Homo sapiens: one gene and its partners. The gene in region 3 interacts genetically with the main gene of each other region. Each region holds a gene or a part of one and is shown on either strand. Other genes may lie near its edges. The genes, in order: TMCO6, SAR1A, PTEN, IGF2BP1, TTC31, NFU1 and CAND1.

Evidence for each region.
Region 1: changes in PTEN (region 3) and TMCO6 together harm fitness more than expected from each alone (negative genetic interaction), as found in Homo sapiens cells (one large-scale study listed by BioGRID).
Region 2: changes in PTEN (region 3) and SAR1A together harm fitness less than expected from each alone (positive genetic interaction), as found in Homo sapiens cells (one large-scale study listed by BioGRID).
Region 4: changes in PTEN (region 3) and IGF2BP1 together harm fitness more than expected from each alone (negative genetic interaction), as found in Homo sapiens cells (one large-scale study listed by BioGRID).
Region 5: changes in PTEN (region 3) and TTC31 impair growth when combined (synthetic growth defect), as found in Homo sapiens cells (one large-scale study listed by BioGRID).
Region 6: changes in PTEN (region 3) and NFU1 together harm fitness more than expected from each alone (negative genetic interaction), as found in Homo sapiens cells (one large-scale study listed by BioGRID).
Region 7: changes in PTEN (region 3) and CAND1 together harm fitness more than expected from each alone (negative genetic interaction), as found in Homo sapiens cells (one large-scale study listed by BioGRID).

Annotation. Positions count from the first base shown.
Region 1 is NC_000005.10:140,637,473-140,642,647, reverse strand, and holds the start of TMCO6 (transmembrane and coiled-coil domain-containing protein 6), read right to left. Parts: upstream 3,198-5,175; 5' UTR 3,121-3,197; coding exon 3,036-3,120; intron 2,910-3,035; coding exon 2,797-2,909; exon of another isoform or gene 2,784-2,796; intron 984-2,783; coding exon 868-983; intron 779-867; coding exon 595-778; intron 334-594; coding exon 229-333; intron 158-228; exon of another isoform or gene 63-157; coding exon 1-62.
Region 2 is NC_000010.11:70,163,968-70,167,514, forward strand, and holds part of SAR1A (small COPII coat GTPase SAR1A), read right to left. Parts: intron 1-3,547. UniProt on the Homo sapiens protein: Small GTPase that cycles between an active GTP-bound and an inactive GDP-bound state and mainly functions in vesicle-mediated endoplasmic reticulum (ER) to Golgi transport.
Region 3 is NC_000010.11:87,928,721-87,933,124, reverse strand, and holds part of PTEN (phosphatidylinositol 3,4,5-trisphosphate 3-phosphatase and dual-specificity protein phosphatase PTEN), read right to left. Parts: intron 2,080-4,404; coding exon 2,036-2,079; intron 113-2,035; coding exon 1-112. UniProt on the Homo sapiens protein: Dual-specificity protein phosphatase, dephosphorylating tyrosine-, serine- and threonine-phosphorylated proteins.
Region 4 is NC_000017.11:49,003,885-49,007,384, reverse strand, and holds part of IGF2BP1 (insulin-like growth factor 2 mRNA-binding protein 1), read right to left. Parts: exon of another isoform or gene 2,579-3,500; intron 1-2,578. UniProt on the Homo sapiens protein: RNA-binding factor that recruits target transcripts to cytoplasmic protein-RNA complexes (mRNPs). This transcript 'caging' into mRNPs allows mRNA transport and transient storage.
Region 5 is NC_000002.12:74,485,572-74,489,975, reverse strand, and holds part of TTC31 (tetratricopeptide repeat protein 31), read right to left. Parts: intron 965-4,404; exon of another isoform or gene 689-964; intron 1-688.
Region 6 is NC_000002.12:69,416,526-69,420,929, forward strand, and holds part of NFU1 (NFU1 iron-sulfur cluster scaffold homolog, mitochondrial), read right to left. Parts: intron 3,080-4,404; coding exon 3,013-3,079; intron 1-3,012. UniProt on the Homo sapiens protein: Iron-sulfur cluster scaffold protein which can assemble [4Fe-4S] clusters and deliver them to target proteins.
Region 7 is NC_000012.12:67,317,045-67,320,996, forward strand, and holds the end of CAND1 (cullin-associated NEDD8-dissociated protein 1), read left to right. Parts: 3' UTR 1-2,909; downstream 2,910-3,952. UniProt on the Homo sapiens protein: Key assembly factor of SCF (SKP1-CUL1-F-box protein) E3 ubiquitin ligase complexes that promotes the exchange of the substrate-recognition F-box subunit in SCF complexes, thereby playing a key role in the cellular repertoire of SCF complexes.

The DNA of each region.
Region 1 (5,175 bases), on a different chromosome or scaffold from region 3:
TCAGCCTGTAGAAGCTGGGACAAGGCATATCCGAGAGCTTCCAGCACAGCCACATGGGGGGACTGGAAGTAGACAGGGTAAGGATCTGACTGGAAGCTGGGTCATCAGGTCTTCAGAGACTTTCAGCCCCTTGGCACAGGGCAGAGGCTGGAGCTACCTAACCAAAGTAGATGGAGCATGTGGGGAGGAGCAAAGGAAGGGTTGCCCAGGGAGGAAGAAAGGAGTCACCTGGATGCAGGCAGCCAAGGCTGGAACAATGCCCTGTGGCAGGAGCTGCCTTCTCACAGCCTCACTCTCCACGATCAGGTTACCCAGTGTATACAGACACAGCTCCTGAGAACAGGCAACAAAAGCACTGGGCTTGGCCTGTTTCATGCCAGGCTGCGTGTGGGGAGATGGGGAGGGGAGGTGATGGGGACGCTGGAGCAGCTATCCTTGCGGCTCACAAGAGGGTGGGGAGATGATGGGTGTAGCCATGGCTGTAGGCATAAGGGCAAACATGTTTTCTTCCTCCTACCTGCCAGCTCAAACTGGTCCCAAAAGCACAATTTTAAAATCTAAACCAAGAACAAGATAGGAAGGGACAGGGCTTACTATGAAGTCTGAGCTGTGACTGGAGAGGTAGGTGAGGAGGTAAGAAGTGGCTGGCAGGCAGGCCTCAGCAACAGTGGACTGCTCGGAGTGAGAGAGCTCATGCAGGCACCGAGCCGCCTCAAGCTGCAGCAGGGCCTGGTTGCTGGTCAGGAGCCCGACCAGGGTCCGCATGCTGCCCTCCAGCCTATGTGAGTGAGTACCAGAGCCCTGCTTAGCTTGTGGTCCATCCCTCAGAGCCCCAACTCCTCCCTCCACCACACCATCCACACTGACCGGATGAAGGTTTGCTGTGTTTCAGGGTGCTGCAAGCCTCGACGAAGGCTGACCAGAGCCCCCTCTCTCTCCTTTTCCTCTGTCCCCCGCTGGGCTTGCCGCAGGAACTGCTGCACCTGGAGTTCAGGGCAGGGAAAGGAGAACACACGGTTCACAGAAAGCAAGTCCTAAGTCTCTCTCTGCCCACTTCACCTGTGAGCCTTCCAATATCACACCTTCAGAACTTGTCATTCACACTAATGCAACTAATAAGCATCTACCTTGCAGTGGAGTGGACAGAGAATCAGAACTGAGTTCTAATACCATACCTGCCACTTACTCCATATGGGACCTGAACCTAAGTTTCCTCACCTGAAAATGAGAATAACAATATCTATCCTGCCTTCATACAGGGTTCTTTCAAGGATATTTAAACCTCTCAGCCTGGCAAAACCTACTCCTCTAGCCATTCTCCCCATGCAACCTACACTCTAACAACAACCAGCCTAACATGAGCTTTTTCTTTTTCTTTTTTTTACATTTCCGAGCTTTTGCACATGCTATTTCTTCTGCCTGGATACCCTCTCCAGCTTCCCACTCTCTTCAGGTTTCTGCTCCTCATTTCCTCTGGGAAGTTAGCTCTTTTTGAGAGACTTAGGAGTTTCTCTTGTTCCTCATGTTTCCTTCCCTTGTGACATCTGTCTTCTTCACCGGGCTGTGAGCACCTCAAAGAAAAGGACTCTATCCTTTCATCTTTGTGTACCTCAGTGACCAGCACAGTGTCCTGGCATAAAGTAAGCATACAATGGAATAGTATGACCTAGGAATAAGTTGATAATATATATGTCAACATGGTATGTACGGTAAACTATGTACGTAAACATAATACAAATACAGGGGATACTCAATGCTTACTGAATAAATCCTTTCATTCACTCATTCAATAAACACTGAGTACTTAACTATATGCCAGATAATGTGCAGGCAACCGGGTTTTCAATGACAACACAGGATCTAGGTTTTCCTGCAATTAAAGTCTAGTTGGAGAAATAACAATAGACAAACCATTAGATAATGATTAATATTCTACAAGAAACAAGTAGGTGGCCGGGCACAGTGGCTCACGCCTGTAATCCCAGCACTTTGGGAGGCCAAGGCGGGTGGATCATGAGGCCAGGTGTTCCAGACCAGCCTGACAAACATGATGAAACCCCGCCTCTACTTAAAATACAAAAATTAGTGGTGGCGCGCGCCTGTAATCCCTGCTACTCGGGAGGCTGAGGCAGGAGAATCGCTTGAACCCGGGAGGCGGATGTTGCAGTGAGCCGAGATCATGCCACTGCACTCCAGCCTGGCGACAGAGCGAGAGTCTCAAAAAAAAAAAAAGAAAAGAAAAGAAAAAAAATAGGCTCTCAAGACAGAATACCAAAAGAAACGAACGTTAGACGTAGCGAATGCCAAGGGCTTGAGACACAAATCCGATATATCGTTGCAGGAACTAAAAAGAGGACGGTGGGTAGGATGAGAAAACTGATAAAATTTGAGTTAGGAAGAGGCTAGACCATGCTATGCTTTGCAAGGCACAGGAAAGATTTTGGTCTCCACGTGTTTTTAAAGGACGTAGTGACGGTGACAAGCATAGATGCAGGGTGACCTTTTAGGAGACTGCAGTAGTATCCAGAGAGGAGGTGGTGGTGGCAGCTTCGATGGTGAGGCATGTAAAGACTCCAAAGCTCTTCAGGAGGTAAACAACTAGGACTTGATGATGGATCGATATGGGGTTGTGGGTCAAAGAGTTGTGCAGGATGATTCCCCTGTTTCTGGCTTGACCCACTGGATGCGTGGAAGTGTAGAGTGGATTGCGTTCAGGTTTGGGGCAGACCTCGAGTACTCCCGGGAGTCTGGCGCCAGCGGGCGTGGACTCCAGCGCACCCTACCTTGCCCCCTCACCTCGGTTTCCCCGAGGATCGCAGCCACACATCCCTCTCCAGCTTCCTCTGGGGCGTCGTTTCTCAGCAGCCTCTTGCTGACCAGCTGCTGCTCCCTCCGCGCCTTCCGCAGTGCTGGGGGCAGAGGAGCCGGCTGAGCGTGGGAAGGACGACCACAACCCAGAACCCGCGGCTCCGAGCCTGGGGTCTCAACTTATCCCCGACCGCCATATACCCCCGCGCTCCCTCGGCCGCCCACACCTGCCTCCCGCTCCCGCCGGCGGCGCCGTAGCTCCTCCACCCCGCAGACCGTGGGCCTGAGGCGGCCCTGCCGTCGGCTCCACATGGTGGAGCAGGAGGAGGAAAGCCGAAGGAAACAGCAGCCACAACGCTCCCAGGGGCGTAGAAGATGGCACCGACTGCGCAGCCTCAGCACAGGGCGGGAACAGGCGGGGAGGGCGCGAGGAGCGGGGTGGGTGCTGGGTGAGGGCGGGGCTCGGCGAGTGGACGCCTCGCGGGGACGGTGGGCGGGGCGAGGGCTAGAGACGCTGCACCACTAGACCAGAGCCAGAGGCGTCGCTCTGCCTCTGATTGATTTCCTGTCTTACCAATTCTAGGAAAAAAAGTCTCTCATCCCTGACCTCGAGTGACCCAAGCCAGCAGTGTCACAATCTACTCAGCAAACACAACTTCCCCACCCACAATACGCTCTAGATGAAAGTTCAAAACAATCCCGAACTGCGGGAAGCGCCATGATGCCGTTTCACTATTAATGCGGATCCCACTGATGAGAGCTGCCAAAAACGCTTGAAGCGTCATTGAATTGTCAACGAAAAGAGTCCAACTCTGTAAAATATTTGAAGAGACTTATTCTGAGCCAAATATGAGTGACCATGGCCCTTGACACAGCCCTCAGGAGGTCCTGAGAACATGTGCCCAAGGTGGTCCGGTACAGCTTGGTTTTACATATTTTAGGGAGATATGAGACTTCAGTTCATTCAAGAAATACACTGGTTGGGCCGGGCCTGGTGGCTCATGCCTGTAATCCCAGCACTTTGGGAGGCCTGGGCGGGTGGATCAGCTGAGGTCAGGAATTTGAGACCAGCCTGGCCAACATGGTGAAACCCCATCTTTACTAAAAATACAAAAATTAGCCGGGAGTAGTGGTGGGTGCCTGTAATCCCAGCTACTCGGGAGCCTGAGGCAGGAGAATCGTTTGAACCCGGGAGGCGGAGATTGCAGTGGGCCGAGATCGCGCCCCATTGCCTGGGGTACAAGAGCGAAACTCCGTCTCAAAAAAAAAAAAAAGAAAGAAAGAAAGAAAGAAATCTGGGATATGATGAGGTTTCTCTTCAAATAATTAGATCAATCTTTTATTCTTTAATTCATAGTACTCCCCCCCACACACACTTTTGTTTTCCTTTTTCTCCTTTTTGCCTTCGTTAGATGCCGAGGCACGCCACAGTACAAGACGTTATCAGTACCAGACGTTATCAGTACCAGCTCACATTCCTTTCATTATTTGGAAAGAGGACTAACTTTCTAGTTCATTACAGGCACCCCTTCCCCTTTCCTCTCCACTTTCTTTTACGTGCCCACATTACCTAAAAAAATCAAATGTTTAGCCAACCGGGATTAGTTCAGATTGTATGACCCGACCCCGGCCAATGGGGAAAGGGTACAGGGGCAGGACTTGCGTCAGGAATAAAGGCTCTCGTGCCCCTTTGTTCAGGTGTGCTCTCATGGCGACTGGCCAAGCAGACACCCCTCTGAGCAGAAGTAAAATTGCTTTGCTAATAATCCTTTGTTCGAGTGTTCAATTTCCCTTAGGATTTTGAGCGTTATTCCTAAGAGAAAGAAAAGAAAGAAAGGAAGGAAGAAAGAAAGAAAGAAAGAAAGGGAGAAAAGAAAGAAAGAAAAGAAAAGAGGAAAGGAGGAAGGGAAGAGAGGGGAGGGGGAAAGAGAGAAAGACATTGGTTTGTGGGACAACAGAAAGGCGGGACAACTCGAAGTGGGGCGGTGGGGGGCTTCCAGCTTATAGGTAGATTTTAAATTTTTCTGGTTGACAATTGGTTGAGTTTCTCTAAAGACCTGAAATCAATAGAAAGGAATGTCTGGGTTAAGATAAAGGATTGTGGAGACCCAAGTTCTTATTTGCAGAGGAAACCTTCAAATCCTAGGCTTCAGAGAGAATGGGTTGTAAAATGTTTCTTATCAAACTTAAAGTCTGTGTTGATGTTAACGGTAGAGAGGTATAATGAGGCACGTTCAACCCCTACTTCCCATCATGGCCTGAAACGGTCACTCGGGTTTAATTTTGAAAGAGCCCTGGCTGAGGAGGAAGTCCATTCAGATGGTTGTGGGGGGCGGCCTTAGAATTTTATTTTTGCTTTACAGAATG
Region 2 (3,547 bases), about 18 Mb from region 3:
GATGGCAATGGCTATATTAGTGGTGTAGAACTTCACCATGTGATGACAAACCTTGGAGTGAAGTTAACAGATGAAGAAGTTGATTAAATGATCAGGGAAGCAGATCCTGATGGTGATGGTCAAGTAAACTATGAGTTTGTACAAATGATGACAGCATAATGAAGACCTTGTACAGAATGTGTTAAATTTCTTGCACAAAACTGTTTATTTGCCTTTTGTTTGTAACTTATCTGTAAAAGGCTTCTCCCTACTGTCAAAAAAAAATATGCATGTATGGTAATCAGGACTTCATTCCTCCATGTGTTCTTCCCTTACTGTCATTGCCCTGAAACCTTATTTTAGAAAACTGATGAAGTAACATGTTGCCTGTGGCTTACTCCGGATATATCTAAGCCCTTCTGCACATCTAAACTTAGGTGGAGTTGGTCAAATAAGGGAACATCCGGGTTATGCCTTTTTTTAAAGTAGTTTTCTTTAGGAACTGTCAGCATGGTGTTGAAGTATGGAGTTGTAACTCTGTGTGGACTACGGACAGCCAACAATATGTACTTAAAAGTTGCACTACTGCAGAATGGGTGTATTATCCAGGTACTCCCAGGTACCTCACACACTGTTTTTTCTGTACTGCTGGTCCTGTACCAGAAACATTTTCTTTTACTGTTACTTGCTTTTTAAACTTTGTTTAGCCACTTAAAGAAAATGTGCTTATGGCACAATTTGCCTCAAATCCATTCCAAGTTGTGTATTTGTTTTCCAATTAAAAAAATTACAATTAAAAAAAGAATTATACTAAATCTACTCTGCCTACCACACATCTGTTTACAGCATGGTTTACTAAGTATTTTAAGCCCACTGTGAAGACCTATTGCTCAGAAAAAAAGATTTGAAGATATTACTGCTCATTGACAACGCACCTGGTCACCCATGGGCTTTGATGGAGGTGCAGAAAGAAGTTAATGTTGTTTTAATGTCTACTAACAACATCCATTCTGCTTCCCATGGATCAAGGAGTATTTTCGATTTGCCAGTCTTTCATTTAAGAAATATATTTCCTTTGGGAGGCCGAGGCGGGCGGATCACGAGGTCAGGAGATCGAGACCATCCCGGCTAAAACGGTGAAACCCCGTCTCTACTAAAAATACAAAAAATTAGCCGGGCGTAGTGGCGGGCGCCTGTGGTCCCAGCTACTTGGGAGGCTGAGGCAGGAGAATGGCGTGAACCCGGGAGGCGGAGCTTGCAGTGAGCCGAGATCCCGCCACTGCACTCCAGCCTGGGCGACAGAGCGAGACTCCGTCTCAAAAAAAAAAAAAAAAAAAAAGAAATATATTTCACAAAGCCATCAATGCCATAGACTGATTTCTCTGCTGGATCTGGGCAAAGTAAACTGAAAACCTCCTGGAAAGGAGTCACCATTCTAGGTACCAGTAAGAACAGTTATGATTCACGGGAAGAGGTCAAAATATCAATATTAACAGGAGTTAGGAAGACAGTGATTCCAACCCTCGTGGAAAACTTTGAGGGGTTCGAGACTTTGGAGGAAGAAGTAACCTTAGATGTGGTAGAAACAGCAAGAGAACTAGAATTAGAAGTAGAGCCTGAAGATGTGACAACTGCTGTAATTTCATGATCAAACTAATGGATAAAGAGATGCTTCTTATGGATAAGCAAAAAAAGTGGTTTTTTTGAGATGGAATCTAGTCCTGGTGAAGATGCTATGAATACTGTTGAAATGACACCAACAATTTAGAAAATTACAAAAACTTACTTGAGTTTACATAAACTTACTTGAGCAGCAGCAGGGTTTAAGAGGACTGGTTCCAATTTTGAAATAAATTCTGCTTTGGGTAAAATGCTATCAAACAGCATTGCATGCTACAGAGAAATCTTTCTTGAAAACAAGCATTAACTGATGCAACAAACTTCCTTGTTGTCTTATTTTAAGAAACTGCCACAGCCATCCCAACCTTTAGCAATCATCAACCTGATCAGTCAACAGCTATCAACGTGGAGTAACATGGAGGTAAGATCCCCAACCAGCAAAGAGGTTATGACTCGCAGAAGGCTCCGATGCTTGTTAGCATTTTTTAGCCATAAAGTATTTTTTAAATAAGGTACGTATTTTCTAAGACGTAATGCTACTGTACACTTAACAGACTACAGTATAGTGTAAACGTAACTTTTATGTGCACTAGGAAACCAAAATATTCGTGTTACTTGCTTTACTGTACTTGTTTTATTTCAGTAGTCTGGAACTAAACTCACAGTATATCCGAGGTATGCCTACACTTTCTTTTACTGTGTGACTTACTCCTCCAGGCAGCGGTTCATTCACATTCCCTAGACATACGACTGCTGTCATCCAGTGAAGAACAACTCTAGGAAATCAGTCTTATCAATAATGTGAATCAGAATGCCACTTAGATGCACTAAATAGAAAATAAGAATGAAAAGCACATTGATTTGAATGAAAAACATATTAATCTATCCTGTAAACAACTCTAAAAAACAAAAGTCACCCAAAATTCTACTGGCCAGCACCACTTGCCCTGCTCCATTTACCAATGTTATCTCAATATTTAATCATTTTTGCAGACACGGGTCTCAATTTATAAAAAGAAATGACATCACTATTTTAGAGAACCATTAAGGGATAAGAAGAGAATCTTTTCATACATGAATAATCACACCCAAACTCATTTTACAAATAGATTTTCTTAAAATAAGAATACTTATTCAGGCCGGGCCCCCGTGGCTCACACCTGTAATCCCAGCATTTTGCAAGGCTGAGGTGGGGGATTCCTCCCTGACCTCAGGAGTTCAAGACCAGCCTGGGTAACATAGAGAGACCTGCATCTCTACAAAAAAAAAAAAAAAAAATTAAAATTAGTCAGGCATGGTGGCACGTGCTTGTAGTTCCAGCTACTTGGGAGGCTGAGGCAAGAGGATTGCTTGAGCCCAGGAATTTGAGGCTGCCGTGAGCTATGATTGTGTCACTGCACCCCAGCCTGGGTGGCAGAGCAAGACCCTGTCTCAAGAAACAAAAAAGCAAAAAAAGAATACTTTTCAGGATATAGCAGTAAGTTCCCAAGCCAGTAAATAACTTAACTGGTACTGATATTAACACTACTTTTTCTATTGTTTCTCATAGCTATCAAAAGCTACTAAAAGGTTTACATATATTGGTAATAAGCAAAATGACCTCTGAATGAAATTAAGAGGGTAGGATCTAGACACACTGGTGGGTCTTAAGGTTTCTCAGCATTGTCTGGCCATGCTGAATTTTTGCTTTAGTATCTCAGATGCGGTGCAGAAAAATGGAAGGTCCACACTTTTACTCCTCTCCATCAGCAGGAGCATCTGAACACAGGGCTTTATACTAGATATGACCAACTGCATTCAAAATTTTCATGAACAGTAACCAGTAAAAGCATTACCCACAAAAAAATCCCCTTACATTCAAAGAATGCCAGATGAAGAATAAAATGAACAGCTGGGCGCGGCAGCGCTTGCTTGTAATCCCAGCTATGCAGAAGGCTGAGGCAGGAGA
Region 3 (4,404 bases):
ATTGCTGCAACATGATTGTCATCTTCACTTAGCCATTGGTCAAGATCTTCACAAAAGGGTTTGATAAGTTCTAGCTGTGGTGGGTTATGGTCTTCAAAAGGATATTGTGCAACTGTGGTAAAAAGATAACCTCAGAATAAGAAAAAAAAACTCTTGAATTTTTAATTAACAAGTAGGTAACTTTAGAAATGTTGCATACAAACTTAACAGGTATTTAAAAGAAACACTGGATTCCAGAGAAAAATAATGTATTGCTTAACTTTCTAATTGTTAAATAGAAAATAGTCTCTTGATAAGTCTTAAATATAATCATTAAGGAAGCCAGGTATTATTTTCCCCCATTTTATTCAGGAGGATATATTCTGGGAATTTACGCTATACGGACTGGTAGCATAGGTCACATATTAGAGGTAGAGCTAAACCCAAAATGAACTGTCACATGGACATTTCGTCAGGACTCTCAATGCAAAAGGAATAATACTATTTATAGTATTTATTTCATCATCACAAAACATATTCCAAAGACAGAATAGATTACTAATAGGATAAACTATGCAAAGAACTACATATTACATTTCATAAAATAAAAATGCTAAGTGTGTTATTTAAAGGTGGTCTTGCAAATGTTAGTGTTGTATACACATGTAATCATTAGGGAAGCCAAGTATTATTTTCCTCCATTTTCTGCAGGAGAATACATTCTGGGAATCTATGCTCAATGGACTGCAGCATAGGTCACATACCAGAGATATGTGAAGGCATACACCAAAGAAATTACTCACAAAATGTATATAATTGTTATCAAAGTTTCAGGTCTTCTCACATGAATTGTAAGAGTCCAAGACTTCTCTGTTCACTATAGTCAGAGTTGAGGTTTTTAAAAAAACTTGTTTAGAAACAGGACTATAGATATATCACTATTAATTGCTCTTAATAGTTTCTACCTTAGTTCCACTCTATTAAGATCCTTAAAAACCCTGGCTGATATTCAATGTACTAACCTGTGTCATCTAAATATGTGAGAAGTATGTCTTATATCTCCAATCAGGTGACTCATAATATGGTACAGGATATAATCAATTATCCTTTGGTGTGACAGGAGAGATCTTCTGGTAGACAATGACTATCATTATAAGGAGTCAGCAGGACAGCTTTCACTTAGTCATCTGCCTAACTTCATTTTCCCAGTGGTACACAAAAACCTCCAGGAAAATCTGTTAAATATCTGTTTAAAGCAAGATAAACCTCAACTAAAGCCTGCTTTGCTTAGTAAGCAACAGCCTAAATCCACCAAAAACAAAAACAAAAAAAACCCGTTCTTAGTAAACCTATACTAAATCTCAATCATTAGTGATTTAGAATTTTCAAACCATTTGTCTGAAAGTCCATTCTAGATTTTCAGGAGGGATCAATGGCAAATACATCAATAGTAGCTCATGGCACCCACTTTCTTTTTGACTATCACAGCAGCATCTGCCAAGCTTCTCAACTCTTCAGTTTTCTCATGGTTTAAAGTGTTAAGCCATGAGAACTGAGTTGTATTTCACAAATAAAAGTGAAAGTTTTTGTGGGCTCTGAGAATTAACTTATGTCTGAAGTAGAAACTCATTTAAAGCAGTTCCCTCCTCTCATCCATCAGACTCCTCTTATCAACATTTGTTATATCCTTTCCTACCTTTTATGTCATTCCTCAACACAGAAGAGTTAAGTAGTTCTGCTTTCTCCCTGTGATTGCTTACTATTAGACCAACTGCCTCAAATAGTAGGTAAACCCTCTCCTTATACTATTTTTAGTCTAGGAATTTTCCTAATTCTTAGTCTATGCTGCACTTTAGTCTTCCTGACAATATTAATAGCTTTATGCAATACTTTTTCCTAAAACACAACAGTAAAATTAAAATTTTTGAAATTTTTAAAGATAATTCTTAAATATGTATCTCACTCGATAATCTGGATGACTCATTATTGTTATGACAGTAAGATACAGTCTATCGGGTTTAAGTTATACAACATAGTACAGTACATTCATACCTACCTCTGCAATTAAATTTGGCGGTGTCATAATGTCTTTCAGCACAACTAAAAGAAAAGTTTAAAAGTGATATAAAGTTATCTTTTGCACTTAGGAAGAAAAAAAAGTACTAATACTAACAAACATTGCCTGAATCTTTATAATGTGACACATATTATGCTGTGTTTAACATTAATTATTTCATGTAATAACAAGAATTCTATTAAGTAGATACTGTTATCACCCCCATATTATAATAATAAAACCAAAGCTTAAAAGATTAAGTGTATGCAATTAGAGCTAATACATTTGCTTAAAAACTTGTGATGCCACTAATACAGAGTACTGTAAATTCAGGTGCTTCCATGCTTTCAAATTTCCTCTATGAAAAATCTGCATGCTATTGGAATATATTTTTAATTTTACAAGTACCTATAAACAACTGACTAGTTTCAATAGTATCTGTATCTCATAGTTAAGCATACATAATTCTCAAACTATTCTTCAAAAAGATATATGTTAAAAATAGTAAAAGCATAAGGACAGTAAAGAAAAACTGAATGTTGTTAATCTACTTGGCCAAATGCTTACTAATTTTTTTTTAAACCAGACCTTACTCCCTGTTGAAAAGCCAACGATCACCTTTTTCAACAGTCTCTCAGATTGCAAGTTTTAATTACAGTATGAGAGTAATGAAAGAATAAGTAAAATCAATACAGAATAGTAAAATGCTGACTTGTCATTACTAGAGTATGCTAATATTTGTCTTAATAGCAGTGATATGTTAGTATGTACTGGCTTTCTAATGATTAACAGGCCATGTTTACAAACAATAAAAGGCTCAGAAAGAGATCTTACATATCAGTGTGGTTAGCAGTACCCTGGTAACTCCAACTACTATGCAAAACAAATTTTTTAAAAATTACTTAAAATAAACTCTTAGCATTTTAAAACAAATAAAGGTCCATAGCTCCTTAACCTGCAATTTCAATATCCCAAAAGTTCAAAACATCTAAAATTTTCTCTTAAGTTTTATGGCAAACTCAACTACAGCAAATCCTGATCTGAAGTAATAAGATTGTACATAATATTTAATACACTTAGAGCGAAGAGTAAAACATTTCATTTCAGGTACTGACCCACACCCCACTGGGGTGTTTATGTAAAAGTATATTTATCTGTGCTACCTTTTGAAAACTAAAATTTCTGAAAATGGAAACATACTTGGCCCCAAGAGTTTCAAATAAGTGATTGTGAACCTGTATTGTACATTTAGAAACCCTGAAAAACATCTATATAGTTTCTTCTCTACCTTAAAGGTAATTCAAAACCAAATTCACATGAAGGTTTAACTAATTATAAATAAACTACAATCCATTGGTTTCTAACTGGTCAGACCTAAAATAAAACAACTTTCATACTACCACTCAAAACAAAACAAGCTTTTCCTTTTTAGTACAATTTAGTATATTGAGTTTTTCTAGAAAGAAAATGCATTTAGTAATGACATATGCACATATATGCATCCTTGCTAGTAATTTCATACCCACTGACATGAAAAACAGGAAAAAGAGGACTGACAAGACAGTCACATTTTACACTTTCTTTGGTACTTTTAAGATAAAAGGGGAGAAATTGTCAATAGTGAAGAATTCATAATGGAATATTTTATAAGGAATCAGAGATGTAGGACTAGGAAACACAATCTAAGAAGCTGGTCTCAGGACAACACAACAGAAAATAAACATTAGTTTTGTGCAGCTTCAGTTCTCTAAACTTCCCCTACTTTCTCAGGATCCCAGAACATGTGGTTTGACGAACACTCCTTAAGACTGCTTTAATAAAAATGCCTCTCAAATATTACTGTTAAGAGGACTATATGGACGGAAAGTGGAAGTAATGACTACTAAGTGTCAACCAGATGAACACACCTTACAAAGAGTTTCCACTTTTTTTTGTTTCATCCTCACAATCACGTGATAACTGTTATTATCTCCATTTTATATATGAGAAAGCTAAGACTTAAGAGCATTAAAAAACTTGCCCCAAATAACAGTATACAAATGAAAGAGCCAGAACTCAAGCTCAGTATCTCTGATTACAAAAGTCAAACTTTTTCTACTACTGTTCCATAATTCTACTTATAATAAAAAAAAAGTTTTAAATACAAAAGCAGTAACAAATTTCAGTCAAAGCCAGCATTCCTACAAGAGCAGTATCTGTCATAAATCACAGAACCAACAGTGACAGTAAAAAGCAAGGAAAAAGTTATGAAAATCTTCACAGGTAAGCATAGGAAATATGGGAGCAAATATGCTGGGACTAGTAATGATAAATATGCTCAGGGAATGGGGGTTGGTAGGATAAGGATGAAGACTTTCTTCTTAAATTAA
Region 4 (3,500 bases), on a different chromosome or scaffold from region 3:
AGAAGTGGGCATAAAGGTGGGTTCTGAGTGCATCTCTGGGAACTGGTTCCAGACCAGGGAACCAGGGGGAGAATGTGAGGACACTACAGAAGCAGAAGAAGTAGGGAACAATGTGTGCAGTCACCCCCTGGGTATCTAGGGATCCCCAGTTCCTGAATGCCTACTTTGTTAGCTTACCAAGAGCAGGACATGAAAATGAACATACCCATCCCAGCAGATGGGGGAGGTCACTCTCATTTCTTCCTTCCTCAGACCCCCAGGAGGATTCTTACAGTCCCCTTCATCCTGAATTCTTACAACACCTACCTTATATGCAGAGTTAGTTCCCCTCTCACCAATGTCCCTACTCTACATGTACACCTTTGACAGTAGCCGTAAAGTGTGAAATTTCAGCTAGGAACCTGGACCAAGTTCAGGGCATAAACGATAACAGAATAAATGGCCTGTTTCCCCTAAAGAACAATTAATAGCATTATCCACCATGCTCGCCTCATCTCTCCAAGCCTCTGTCTCAGAGAATGTACTGGGGGAATCTATAATCTAGGGGCTCTGTGGGGTTGCCCTGGTGAGCTTCATCTCTCTCCACTAAAAGGTGGCTTTTCCTTTCAACATACAGGTAGAGTTACCAAAGCACCCTACGCACAGATCCCCTTCAACATGCCTAGCCATCACTGTTCCTAGTGCCTTAGATATATAGCCCAAGCTGACACACACACAGTTCAAAGACAACCTCTCATGGACACATTTTCAGGCATCTGTACACTTGATCAGTTCTAATACTCATGGAGCTAACCACAGCTATATGGGGCAGGGTAGGATACAACTGTAAAGCTTCAAAGGAGGACAAACAATGGCTAGGGCAGGAGGGACAGAAGTCAATATCTACAACAAAATAATAACAATAAGAGCTATTGTGTACTACTATTAGGACCACTTCTTTACAGTTACGGAAATTGAGCTCAAGCTTTTAAACACTGAATTCTCCTGGGAGGAAGACCTTTCCTCCAGACCCCAGTAAAGGATGAGTGAGAGACCTAGGGTAGGTCATTAAGACTCTGACCTAACAGCACTTCTTCCCTCCTGGAGCCTTAAGAATTTTGAATGATTCCTTTCCTCCTTGTTCCTCTTTGCCAAAGAGGTCAGACCACACAAACAACCATTACACACATATTTCTGAATTCTCTGATTTCTCCCCTTAAAGATCCTAACTATATCCAATCAACTAAACTAAACTATCCAATCAAATTTCACTCAGACTTAACATTTTCCATTTCAAGTGGCCAAAACATCCAAATGAGTGATTGAGTTGGTTTTTGTTTTTGTTTGAGACACAGTCTCGCTGTTACCCAAGCTGGAGTGCAGTGGTGCGATCTCGGCTCACTGCAACCTCCACCTCTCAGATTTAAGCAATTCTCTGGCCTCAGCCTCCCGAGTAGCTGGGACTACAGGCATGCACCACCACACCTGGCTAATTTTTGTATTTTTAGTACAGGCAGGGTTTCACCATGTCGGCCAAGCTGGTCTTGAACTCCTGGCCTCATGTAATCTGCCCTATTCGGCCTCCAGAAGTGCTAGGATTGCAGATGTGAGCCACCGTGCCTGTCCTGAATGAGTGATTGAGTTTTTAACCAAAATTAACTCAAAATGAAAAAAAAAAAATTTGAAGTTCTCCTTAACCTTCTTTTCATAAGGAAATGTAGAGAGGATTGACTAGAATCCACTAACCAGACATGGTAGAAAGGGAAAGAGAAAATGTAGAGCTTCCCCTCTTCTCCTGCCTCCTCTATTATGGGATTTTTCTCCACAACCCTCCTCTAAACTATAAGCAAAATTTCCAGCCATCCCATATCAGACACCATCCCTTACATGCCTTCCAGCCACCAAAATGCCACTTGTCTAATAACCAGACTTGTCCTAAGGGGTCTTGAAAATATCTGCACAATCCACTCAAAACTTCTCTTAATCATCGAGCTGTTTGCTCTCTATTTCAGTCAAAAGCAGTTTGCTTACGACCAGCCATGCTCCTGGGAACCTGGATTTCCCAAAATGCAAAAGGACTGCATTTCTGATGGTGTTTGTTCTGCACACAGTTACATTTCAGTGTGTTGCAATCAGGTTTTTTCCAACTGTATTAAAAGTATGAGGTCCAAACCTACTTTTCTGTGACTTACCTGTAATCAACATATATTTTGTCAGTCAACTATGGTTAGAGCAAAAGTTTGTTCCAGCCTGTTGTATTATTGCAAACCTACTGTGCTGCAAGGTAGTAAGCAGGTCTTACAAAGCAGGCTCTGCAATAAATTTTAATAGTAGGATGACCCCCCTTCTATCCAGTAATAAGTACATAGTCTCCTCTGATCAAAATCTGAAGGGCCATCCAAGTTCTCCTAGTAGAATGAAGTCACTACCTGGGGACTACGTAGCTTCCTGCTGGCATTGCCTCCTTGCCCTTGCGATGGTGTGTGTCAGGTGGTATCTTACAGGATCATTTTTAACCAAACTATCGGTAACCAAATGGGCATACACTTTCTTGAGTACAGGTTTGAGAGACCTTTCCTTCTGCTTTTTGTTTTGACAGGCATTTAAAAAGGTATAGGGGAGGAGAGGAAAGGTGGAAATGGATGGGGTGCAGAAGTTTTACACTAACATGGAGTCGAAGACTGGCTGAGACCCTGGACAACTGGAAGGCCTGTTGTCTCTCTTTTACAAGATAAACAAAATCCATGGATAGAACCTCTGACTACTATTACTGCCTCTGTTATTGTTTCGGTCAGCCTTCAGGACCTGTGGACAGACACAAACAGCTCATTTTGTAAAGATTGCAGGTTACTTAAATTGACACTTAACTCTTTAAGGTTCTATTTCTCAGGCCAAGACCCCAGCTACTGGGAGAGAGGAACAGCTACTTGCACTTCCATTTTCTCTCCAACTGTCTCATCCTATTTTCCCTTTACCTACTCTTCCTCTCTTCTTGCCTCTTTTCACTTCACATTTACCCACTGGCTTTTTGCCTTAGAATGGAGAGCTCCTGAGGCAGCCCAGGTGCTGGAAAGGGTCTGCAGCCCGCAGCCCGCAGCCGGTGAGGGGGAACCCTCTCGTGGGGTATCTGCTGCGAGGTTTGCGATCTGGGGTTCCCAGGACTAAGGCGCACCACAAGCGGCCTGGGATCTCCTGGGGTCTCAGGGATCTGAGAGGGGAAGTCCTCCTCGGAGACCCAGGCCAGCGGATGTTCTCTGTCAGGGGCTTGTTAAGAGAAGGCAGGCGGGCGGCCCCACCTCAGAGCGAGACGAGATTGCCGGGCTGGGACTGGCGCGGGGGCGGGCGGGGAAGGTTAGGGCCGCCGGGCCGGGGCGAGCGCTCCAGGAAGAGCCTGCAGCGCCGCCGCCACTTTCTCTCTCTCTACTCTCTCTCTTTTTTGAAAGGGGAAGGGAAGGCCGGCAACTCCAAAAGCAAATATAGCCTTGCCCTGAGCTGAGTCTACCACCCGTCTCCGACCCCTC
Region 5 (4,404 bases), on a different chromosome or scaffold from region 3:
GGAGAGAGCAAGGGCTTCGCTGGCTTGATCTCTCCACCATGGCAGCCACCAACCAGCTATCCAGCCCAGAGACTCTCACTGGCTCTGACCTCTCCCTCCTCAGCACCGCAAAATCTGCTGCCCCCAGCTATTGTAGTGAATCACCTCCCCTCGCTGCTTTCCTGCCTTCCCAAGGGTTGAGTATGGTATTCAACCTGGCCTCCTCTACCATCCAGGATCTTCTCTCCTCAACCTGAGTTAGCCACACTGAGGCCCCTGGAATGAAGCCCTCCCACCTGCTCTTCCAGCTAGGCCCCCTGTCATATCTGCAGTATGAACAGCTCCACATAACCCACCCTGAGGCTAGCTCACACCTAAACAAGTACAGCAGCTCCTGGCTGGCCGCTCCTCTGCACCTCATCTGTTTCTCCACAAAACTAAGCTCTAAGAAATTACTTCCCTACTCAGGGACATCCAATAATCCCCCACTGCCAAGGCCATAGGCAGAGTTGAACCTAATTCCTCAGCCTACGATTCAGAGCCTTCCAAAAGGCTCCCAGGCTGACCTTTCCAGCCCTCCTTTTAATCCTCCCCTGCTTCACTGCTGTCCTCCCTCCCACCACCAGGCTCCCTCCAGCCTTGGGGCCTTCCCCCAGCTGCTCTCCAATCCCTCCTAACTCTTGAGCTTCTTTCTCACATCTTGCCTCACCTTCAAGGTCCAGTTCAAATTCTATCTCCCTTCAAAGCCTTCCCAGACCCTTTCATCTCCAATTATCTCTGCCTCCTCCAACTAACCTGCAACCACATTATCTGTGTTACACAATTTAGAAACTTGTTATTGATTGCTTTCTATTGCTCTCCTCATTGGCCAGGCAGCATGGAATTCCAAAGGGCATTGTGCTGGAGTGGAGCCACTTGCATCTGAGGTTATTTTTTCTTTTGAGGTGGATTCTTGCTCTGTCACCCAGGCTGGAGTGCAGTGGTATGATCTCAACTCACTGCAACCTCTGCCTCCCGTGTTCAAGCGATTCTCCTGCCTCACCCTCCCAAGTAGCTGGGATTACAGGCACACGCCACAATACCATTTGTATTTTTAGTAGAGAGGCGGTTTCACCATGTTGGCCAAGTTGTCTTGAACTCTTGACCTCAAGTGATCCACCCGCCTCAGCCTCCCAAAGTGCTGGGATTGCAGGTGTGAGCCCCTGTGCCCGGCCGACTATTTTTTGTTTGTTTCTGAGACAGGGTCTTGCTGTGTTGCCCAGGCTAGACCCAAACACCTAGGCTCAAGCGATCCTCCTGCCTGAGCCTCCTGAGTAGATGGGACTTCAGGTTTGCACCATCATGTCCAGCTTGTCCAAATTTTCACTCTGACACTACCTGCCTGTTTGATTCTGGAGAAGTCATTTAACTTCTTTGGACCTCTCCCTCATTCACAAAATAAGGCAAGACTCTTTAAGGCCTGGCCCACACATTCTGTGGTCCTGATGGGAGTCATTTCCTCAGGGAGTATAAGCTTCAAAGACAGGAATGATCACATTCCTATTTGCCTAATCAGGCCTAAACAGAGCAGGACTGACTGAGACGCTTAGAAGCCAATGATCTTTTGGACTTATTGAGTTAGAAGCCACAAACTTAGAAACTCCAGCGTGCTAAAAAAAAATCTGTAGGCAGGACTTCAGATGACTAAGGTATATTCAATTTTCTAAACAATTTTAGATCCAAGGCTTCCCTCAGAAGATAGTCCTGGCTTAACAGCATCTCCAATACTGCTAGGCACTTTCATCAGTCTTATACTTAAAATTCAATTTCCTGGTGGGTTTGTGTCACCTTCCTAACTGCAACATAAGCATAAATAATGAGCCAGGTGTGGTGCGGACGCCTATAGTCCCAGCTACTCGGGAGGCTGAAATCGAAGGACTGTTTGAGCCCAGGAGTTCAAGGCTGCAGTGAACTATGATCATGCCACTGCACTGAAGCCTGGGTAACAGAGGGAGACCCTGTCTCGATAAATAAATATGGCTGGGCATGGTGGCTCACGCCTGTAATCCCAGCACTTTGGGAGGCCAAGACGGGTGGGTCACTTGAGGCCAAGAGTTTTAGACCAGCCTGGCCAACATGGCGAAACCCCATCTATACTAAAGATACAAAAATTAGCTGGGCATGGTGGCACATGCCTGTAGTCCCAGCTACTCAGGAGGCTGAGGCACGAGAATTGCTCGAACTTGGGAGGCAGATGTTGCAGTAGCCAAGATCACACCACTGCACACCAGCCTGGGTGACAGAGTGAGACTCTGTCTCATAAAAATAAATAAATTAATTAATTAATAATAAATAAATAAAGCATGCTCTCTGCCCCATGTCAGGCAGCCTCCTCAGGATGTGCCACTCAAATATATACTGTATTTCTTCTCTCTTCCTCCTCAAACCAGTGTAGTCATCATTAAAAATAAAAAATAAAAATAAATTTAAAAAAATAAAAAGCCGGGTGCAGTGGCTCACACCTGTAATCCCAGCAATTCGGGAGGCCAAGGCAAGCAGATCACTTGAGGTCAGGAGTTCGAGACCAGCCTGACCAACATGGTGAAACCCGTCTCTACTAAAAATACAAAAATTAAGCAGGTGTGGTGGCACGCATCTGTAATCCCAGCTACTTGGGAGGCTGAGGTAGGAGAATTGCTTGAAACTGGGAAGTGGAGGTTGTGGTGAGCCGAGATCTCGCCACTGCACTCCAGCCTGGGCAACAGAGCGAGACTACGTCTCAAAAAAACAAACAAACAGGTACTTCCTTGACCTTCTACTACCTGTCCCCAAACCACAGTCTGTGCTGCTCTCTGAATTCACTACATGGCCACTACATATGATCTGGTCCCCCAATATCATTGTGAATCTTCTCCTATCTTGTTACCCTCCTCCAGCCACAGCAGTGTCCTTGGAAGTTCCCACAACATACCAACTGTGCTCCCATCTTAGGGCTTTGCACTTTACTTTGCCTAGAATGCTTTTTCCCCAGTGAACAGCTCACTCCTTCGTCCTTTTTAGATCTCTATGTAAATGTCACTTTCTCAGAGAGGCCTTCTCTGAACACTCCTTTTTTTTTTTTTTTGAGGTGGAGTTTCGCCCTTGTTGCCCAGGCTGGAGTGCAATGGCATGAACTTGGCTCACCGCAACCTCCGCCTCCAGGGTTCAAGTGATTCTCCTGCCTCGGCCTCCAGAGTAGCTGGGATTACAGGCATGCACCACCATGCCCAGCTAATTTTGTATCTTTTAGTAGAAACGGGGTTTCTTCATGTTGGTCAGGCTGGTCTCAAACTCCTGACCTCAGGTGATCCATGTGCCTCAGCCTCCCAAAGTGCTGGGATTACAGGCGTGAGCCACCACACTTGGCCTGACCACTACTTTTAGAAGGAGAAACTTCCCAACTCCACTCAGCACTCCCTATCCTCCTTCTTGCTTTTTCTTTGTACTTCTCATGTTTGACATACTATGTTGTTTATTTATTTGGTCACTGGTTGCCCTCATTAGATGCTCCTAATTTGTTGAACAGAAAGATTTTGGTCTGTTTGATTTACTGCTGTTTCTCAGTACCTACAACAGTATCTAGTACATAGGTGGTATTGTGTGTGTGCTGAGTAAACAGAGATTGGTGAGGAGGCTATTCCAATAGAGACAGAGCCAGGAACTGTGTGTGAAGAAACATGTGTGACACAGTGAGTGTGAACTTTTTTTTTTTTTGAGACGGAGTCTAACCCTGTCTCCAGGCTGGAATGCAATGGCGCAACCTTGGCTCACTGCAACCTCCATCTCCTGGGTTCAAGCAATTCCCTTGCCTCAGCCTCCCAAGTAGCTGGGACTATAGGCGCCCACCACCATGCCCAGCTAATTTTTTGTATTTTAGTAGAGACGGTGTTTCACCATGTTGGCCAGGATGGTCTCCATCTCCTGACCTCATGATCCGCCTGCATCAACCTCCCAAAGTGCTAGGATTACAGGTGTGAGCCACTGCGCCTGGCCGTGAGTGTAGACTTTATCTTGTCAGTGATAGCAGTGGACTTGATCTGGGGAATGAAACAATCAAATGAAATAGTGCTGAGACGGCCAGGCATGGTGGCTCAAGCCTGTAATCCCAGCACTTTGGGAAGTCAAGGAGGGTGGATCACCTGAGGTCTGGAGTTTGAGATCAGCATGACCAACATGGAGAAACGCAATCTGTACAAAAATACAAAATTGGGCCAGGTGCGGTGGCTCACGCCTGTAATCCCAGCATTTTGGGAGGCTGAGGTGGGCGGATCACAAGGTCAGGAGATCGAGACCAGCCTGGCTAACATGGTGAAACCCTGTCTCTACTAAAAATACAAAAAATTAGCCAGGCGTGGTGGCAGGCGCCTGTAGTCCCAGCTACTCGGGAGGCTGAGGCAGGAGAATCAC
Region 6 (4,404 bases), on a different chromosome or scaffold from region 3:
ATGTAATTGCTTGATCAAGTATACGGAACAGCCTACAACTATTCAAAAAATTTACTTATATATATTACTTAAAGGGTATGAAAGAAATTTGGCTGGGCATGGTGGCTCATGCCTGTAATCCCAGCACTTTGGGGAGGCCGAGGCGGGTGGATCACCTGAGGTCAGGAGTTTGAGACCAGCCTGGCCAACATGGTGAAAACCTTTCTCTACTAATAATACAAAAATTAGCCGGCGTGGTTGCAGAGGCCTGTAATCCCAGCTACTAGGGAGGCCAAGGAAGGAGAATCGCTTGAACCCGGGAGGCGGAGGTTGCAGTGAGCCGAGATCGTGCCACTGCCCTCCAGCCTGGGCGACGGAGTGAGACTCCATCTCAAAAAACAAAAAAAGGAAACAATATAGAGATAGTACATAAAAGGTGAGATAAATGGGGACTGCTAAGGTTATAAAAGTAAAACTAGTGAAATATCTTAGTGATTGGGAATGGAAACTAGTTGTAGGTAATAAATTATTTGGAAAACAAATCAGAGTGTTACCTCAGATCTTCAGTAAATAGCAGGCTCTACTAAATAGGAAAATATTGGTAATAAAAAGAAAAAATATTCTAAAGTTGTCTGAATGAGAAAAAAAGGGCAGCATATAAGCTGCAAATATACATATATATTTAGAAAAAAATAACACAAATGATGCATAAAGAAGTCTAATTATCAACTGGAAATCAGAAATAGAAACAGGCGATTGCTGAAGACATTCAGTAAAATGTGATAGTCCATGATGAGAAACATTACTGGAAGAAAACAAAATAAATCCAGTATTCCGTCTATTAAATACCAACGTGGGCCAGGCGTGGTGGCTCACACCTGTAATCCCAACATTTTGGGAGGCCGAGACAGAAGGATTGCATGAGCCCAGGAGTTTGAGACCAGCCTGGGCAACATAGAAGGACACTGTCTCTACAATAAAAAAAAATAAAAAAAAAATTAGCTGGGCATAGTGGCATGCACCTGTAGTCCCAGCTACTCGGGAAGCTGAGACAGCAGGATCGCTTGAGCCTGGGAGTTAGTGGTTGCAGTGACCCATGATCGCACTACTGTATTCCAGCCTGGGGAAACAGAGCAAGATCCCATCTATATGTATGTGTAGATAGATAGATATACACACACACATACATATATGTGTATCAACATATACCCTAACTTGGGATATTATCTATTGGTTATGTCATTTCACTTAAGAAAAAATTGTAGAGCTAGGGCAATTTCAAATAGGGTAACTAAATAATGAAAGTAAGAGAGCTAAAAGATGACTTACTAAATCTAATCAAGAAAAATAGGAAAAAAAAAAAAACCAAAACCCTTTAAGATATAATCACATTTTTACCTATAAAAATTTTTATATAGCATAGGCTATACGTAAAAGAACTAAATAACTTTAAAAAATAAATATATAATTTCCCACTTATAAAATAACTAGTTGTAAGAATTAGATAACATATGTAAAGCACTAGGGCCATATCCGACATTGAATATATTAAATAAATGTTCATCCCTTCTTCTCCTTAAAAAATATGGAAGAAAGAAAACTGAAGAATGGGGGGCTGGACGTGGTGGTTCACACCGGTAATCCCAGCACTTTGGGAGGCCGAGGTGAGCAGATTGTTTGAGCTCAGAAATTTGAGACCAGCCTGGAAAACATGGCGAAACCCTATCTCTACAAAAAATACAAAAATTAGTTGGACATGGTGGTATGCACGTATAGTCCCAGCTACTAGGGAGGCTGAGGTGAGATGACTGCTTAAGCTCAAGAGGCTTAGGCTGCAGTGAGCTGAGATCATGCCACTGCACTCTGACCTGGGTGTGGAGTGAGACTTTGTCTCTAAATAAATAGCCGCAAGAGAATACTGGACTAGATGACTAGATTTAACATGTCACTAACCCAGTATGTCCCCTTTTTTTCTTTTTTGAGATGCAGTCTCGCTCTGTCGCCCAGGCTGGAGTGCAGTGGCCCGATCTCCGCTCACTGCAAGCTCCGCCTCCCGGGTTCACGCCATTCTCCTGCTTCAGCCTCCTGAGTAGCTGGGGCTACAGGCGCCCGCCACCATGCCCGGCTACTTTTTTTTTGTATTTTTAGTAGAGACGGGGTTTCACCATGTTAGCCAGAATGGTTTTGATCTCCTGACCTCATGATCTGCCCACCTCGGCCTCCCAAAGTGCTGGGATTACAGGCGTGAGCCACCACACCCGGCCCCCAGTATGTCCACTTTTAAGGACATAAAGAGCTCAGACTAATCCTTTCAATTTGCTTAAGGGGAGTTTAATAAATATTTTTGATTTTCACACACTATCAGGCAAGTGATTTAAGTTCCGTGGATATATGTCAATTAACAGATTTAAAAGGATACATAGTTCAAATTTAAATAGTTCATGTCCCATTAATCTAGTAGACATCAAAAATGGAACAGCCCTTTCTAGCAGATACTGCCTTGACTGTTGAAAAACATAGCATATTTTTTATAGGCGTGGTGGCTCACGCCTGTAATCCCAGCAATTTGGAGGCCGAGGCGGGTGGATCACCTGAGGTCGGGAGTTCTAGACCAGCCTGGCCAACATGGCGAAACCCTGTCTCTACTAAAAATATAAAAATTAGCTGGGCATGGTGGCAGGCGCCTGCAATCCCAGCTACTCAGGGTGGCGGGGGGGGGCGCCGAGGCAGGAGAATCACTTGGACCTGGGAGGCAGAGGTGGCAGTGAGCCAAGATCGCACCATCACACTCCAGCCTGGGGGACAAGAGCAAGACTTCATCTCAAAAAAAAGAAAAAGAAAAGAAAAAGAAAAACATAGCATATTTCGCTTGATTCTTGTGACATTTAGAGGACAAGAGAGTAAGACCCTGTCTCAAAAATAAAATATAAAAATTAAAGAACAGAAAGAATGGAAATGTTGGAGAGAGAGGCATTGGACTCAGAAAAAAATGAAGAGTATTTCAAGTCTTATTTTATATAATCCTATGTTTACCTTTGTGACAGTGATGAAATCTGGTCCAAAGAAGACACTTTTTACTCCTTCAATCCTAAATAACTGCCTGCAAAAAAAGAAAAAATAAGAGATATTAAAATGCTTGATTATGGAAAAGTTTAAACATACACAAAAGTAGAGAAAAGTAAAAAATTCTCCACATATCCTTTGCAGCTTTAACAATGATCAACTCATGGCCAATTTTGTTTTATATTCCTACTCTACGATTTAGCAATCCCACTCCTAGTTATTTACCCAAAAGAAATAAAAACTCGTGCTCCACAAAGACTTGTACATAAATCTTCATAGCAGCTTCATTTAAAATAGCCACACATACAGAAAAATATGGAAATGTCCATCACCTGGTGAATGAATAGACTGCTATATCTATACTATCAATCATTCATTCAACCAATATTTGACACCTACTAAGTGCCAGGCACTGTACTGAGCACTAAACAGACTATTTTTTTTTTTTTCTCTTTTGAGACGGAGTCACCCTCTGTCCCCCAGGCTGGAGTGCAGTGGTGAGATCTTGGCTCATTGCAACCTCCGCCTCCTGGGTTCAAGCAATTTTCCTGCCTCAGCCTCCCAAGTAGCTGGGATTACAGGCGCCCACCACCACGCCCAGCTAATTTTTGTATTTTAGTAGAGATGGGGTTTCACCATGTTGCCCAGGCTGGTCTCAACTCCTGACCTCAGGTGATCCACCCACCTCCCAAAGTGCTGGGATTACAGGCATGAGCCACCACACCCAGCCTAAACAGACTATTTTCAAAAGACTAACTTGAAAAGAGATTTTGCCAACTGAACATCTGACAGAAATAATCTCTAACTAATCTATAACTGAATTAATTGGGGCTTTTTTACTTTTACTTTTTTAATACAAAATATGAACTCATTCTTGATGTAAATGTTTCAAACAATAAAATTTAAATGCCCCTTGACTACCCCTACCAAATCCTGTTATCAGTTTCGTGTGTATTCTTCCAGATCTTTTTGTCAGTGCATTTGTTGTTCTGTGGTTTTTGCTTTTATATACATAGTATCATATTGGACTCACTGTTCTGCAAGTTGCTTTCTTCACTTGTATGTCTCAGATGTCTATGACAGTAAATACATCCCTGCACGTATCTTGGGCACATGTGCAAGTAACTTCTAGGGTAGGGTTTTTAAAACCCAGTAGTGAGTTGTGGAATCATGTATGTAGTGACAGGGTTTTATGTAATAAAATAAAACAGAACAACAAAAAGAGATGAAGAAAGGAAATTTAAGAATCTATTATCTATTGTAAGGGTGAAAAAATAGTGAAAACTATCCCATCAAACATTTGTATCTCACGCATACACACACATAATGTAAAACACTTTTTACTGTGACTTATATCAAAAA
Region 7 (3,952 bases), on a different chromosome or scaffold from region 3:
AAAAGAATAAGGATTACATATAATGAGAAGACGTGTGGGCTGAAATACCTAGTGAACAATATTTAAGGGAAACTGAAGTGCAAATGGCCTCACAGGTTTGTTTTTGTGTTTAAGACAAGGTCTCACTCTGTTGCCTGGACTGGAGTACATAGCACGAACATGGTTTACTGCACCTCAGCTTCCTGGGCACAAGTGATTCTCCCACCTCAGCCTCCCGAGTAGCTGGGAGTATAGGTGTGTGCCACCACGTCCAGCTAATTTTTTTATTTCCTTGTGGAGATGGGGTCTCATGACCTTGTCCAGGATGATCTCAAACTCCTGGGCTCAAGCAATCCTGTGTTGGCCTCCTAAACTGCTGAGATTATTGCAAGTGCCTCCTTGCCCAGCCACATGTTGTTGATTTCTTTTTTCTTTTTTTTTCTTTCTTAATTTTTTTTTTTTTTTTTTTTTTTGAGATTGATGGAGTCTTGCTTTGTCTCCCAGGCTGGAGTGCAGTGGCGCAATATCGGCTCACTGCAACCTCTGCCTCCCGGGTTCTAGCTATTCTCCTGCCTCAGCCTCCCAAGTAGCTGTGATTACAGGCGTGTGCCACCATGCCCAGCTAATTTTTGTATTTTTAGTAGAGATGGAGTTTTGCCATGTTGGCCAGGCTGGTTTCAAACTCCTGATCTTAGGTGATACACCCGCCTCGGCCTCCCAAAGTGCTGGGATTACAGGCGTGAGCCACGTCCCCCAGCCAGTTTCTTAATCTATACATCTAGCCCAGTCCATGCCCCTGTTTCAGACTATTATATCCAACCACCTGCTATACATCTCATAAAGGTATCTCAAACACAGCATATCTAAAGCTGAAGTCATCATCTTGCCCTGGTTTTTCCTGTCTCTTTGCTGATGGCATCCCATTTACCCAGTCATTCAAACTGGAAATCTAAAAGCCTCACTTAGCAAGAGTTTGGAGGCAGAATATGATAAAGAACAAGGACTCTGGGAGGCCAAGGCAGGTGGATTGCTTGAGGTCAAGAGTTCGAGACCAGTCTGGCCAACATGGCGAAACCCCGTCTTTGCTAAAAAAACACAAAGAAATTAGCTAGACGTGGTGGCACATGCCTGTAGTCCCAGCTGTGTGGGAGGCTGAGGCAGGGGAATTGCTTGAACCTGGGAGGTGGAGGTTGCAGTGACCCAAGATTGCATGCACCACTGCACTCCAGCCTGGGTGACAAAGCGAGACCCTGTCTCAAAAAAAACAAGGACTCTACAGATAGATAGACATCATATATCATATTAGTTTGAATCCTGGCTGTTAGCTGTTAGACTTGGGCAAATAATTTAACCTCAACTTTCCCTATCTATAAAATGGGAATTAAAATATTTGCACCTTATAGGGTTATTGTGAGGATTAAATAGGAACATTGTATAAAGCACTTAAAACAGTACCTGGGACATACTAAGTAATATAATTGTTAACTCTTACTAGCATTCTGTCCCTTTTATTTCCTAAATATCTCTCATGCCCATCTCCTAAATATCTCTTTCCTAAATATCTCTCATGCTTTTGGCTTAAGACCTCTTTTCCTCCTTATCTATTGACTGGACTGCGGCAAATGCCTGCTAATCGTTATTTTTGTGTTCATTCATTTAGCAAGCCAATTTATTACGCGCTTAGGGTGCTGCCAGGGCTACAAAAGCTGTTGAGACTGTACTTGATATGAAGAAGCTTGCTGATTATCATGGGAAGACTGACATAAGGAAGCACCATAAAATTCTGCTGTATGAGAGGTATACACGGGATACTGGGGGTTAATAATTGAGGGTATGGTCCATTCAACATGAGTGAGACAGAAACAATTCATAAAGGAGATGAAATGTCTTGAGGAATGAGCTCTTAGAAGAATAGTTTTCAAATGAGTGTGCATCACAGTCACCTGTAAGACTTATTAAAACAGATCGCTGGGCCCTACACCCAGAGGCTGTGGTTCAGTAGGCTGTAGTAAACCAGTAATTTGTATTTCTATGACGTTCCCAGGTTCTAATGCTGTTCCCCAAGGCCACACCTTGGAAACCACCACATTAAAATACCCAGAAGGCATTAATTCCCAGTCCTTCCTCTACACAGCTGCAAAACAATGGTCCTGACCATTTCATCTTTGCACTACATCCTTCACTGTCTCTCTTTTGCCCATAGGATAAGTACAAACTAGATCTGGTTACTGCCTGCCCCACCAGCCTCAGCATCTCTCACAACTAGGACTAACTTTTTCTTCTGACAACTATAAAATATTTCCCTTGCCTTCTCAAGTTTGCTCAAGGTCAAGTTATGCCTTTTGCCTGGAATGACTTGACTTCTCTTTTGTTTTACTTAGCTGGCTGCTTTTCATCTTGTAGGTTAGGTCAAGGACTCCAGGAAGTCTTCCCTGGACAAGTAATGAAGAGGGCATAATCCAAGGGCCAACTCCCATGTTTGGAACCTGACTCCATTTTCAGGCACGTAATATTGTCAAATTCCTTTTAAAAGCACCTGTCTGTCTGTTAACGTTGGTGCAGATACTGCTATTCCCCTCCTCCATACCATTGCTGATGGTTACTGAGGGTATGGGAAGGGCCGACTAGTCCAGCTGTTCACAAACAGCCCTTAATGTCAAACTGAATACTGCCAACGTAGTTCCAGTTTCTGTATCTAAAGACTCAGCTTGGAGTCACTTGTCTGGACTAAAAGTAACCCCTCCTTGTCTGGTTTGTGACTTTCTGTACTCTGATGCCCCCAGCTTTCTGCCTTCTAGAAATTTGTCAGAATTTCCAAAATTCTTGGGCCTTCCTTCTTGCTCTATATATGGTTTTGGATTCATTCCTTTTAAAAAATATTTACTGTCATTTCAGTAGAATTTTGACACAATAAATATAAGCACATCAGATTTTTTGCCATCTTGAAGCATCTGTTATTTCTTGGTCTTTGGTAATGCTTTACTGAGAAACATTATAATATAGTTGTAAAAGCTCAGGCTCTAAACCTGGGTTTAAATCTGGTTCTACCACTTCTTGAGAGTGGGACTTTGGGCAAATTATTAATGTATCTAGTGTTACCAGTGGAGGGGCTTGACTACGAATTGTCCAGGTCCTGGGCATTTTGAACAAAGAACTGAACAAAACGCGCAAAGTAGCAGAGGAATGAAATGCAGGAATGAAGCAGCAAAAGCAGGAATTTTATGAAAGCGAGAAAGCACTCTACTGGGTGGGAGTGGGCCTGAGCAAGTGGCTCAAGGGCCCAGTTACAAAGTTTTCTGGGCTTTAAGTATCCCATTTGAGGTTCTTATCATCTACCCCTTATCTGGATGAAGTATTTGGTCTGTGGCTAAAGGCTGAGGTGAATTGGCACCCTATGCACACGAAGAGATGGTCCCTGTGTGGCCCTCAGCCAATCCAGGGTACTCTTCCTTTCCATCTCAGATGTGGTGGAAGTGGGAGGGTTGTAGAGAGAGTAGCCTTTGATCCTTAGTTACTTCGCTTGGGGAGATGGGGTTTTTCCCTTTGGGTTTAGCTTTAGGAAGTTTGTGTTGATTGGCCTTAGGATTCCTGCCCCCAGACCCAGGTATTTTCTTTTAGATCCAGCTCTGGGAAGTCAGCGTGATTTGGCCTTAGATTTCCTGCCCCCAGACCTTGGTGATTTCTCTTTTAAAAAGTTAGCACAAATTGCCCTTAAGTTCCCTGTCTCCAGAGCCTGTTCTCCTGCCTCACTAGGTCTATTTCCTCATTAGTCAAATTGAGTTATATGTAGTAGTCTGAAAGAAGAGTCTCCCCCAACATACTAAGAAGGTTAACACACACACACATGAGACAGGGCAGGGACTCCTCTTAGGGGCCTGCCGGATCCCTCCAAGCATGGAAATTAAGGAAAATTCCAAGCACCTAGCTAGCCTTGTGAAGTAAATGAGCAACTTGATAAGCAAGAAGGTAATAA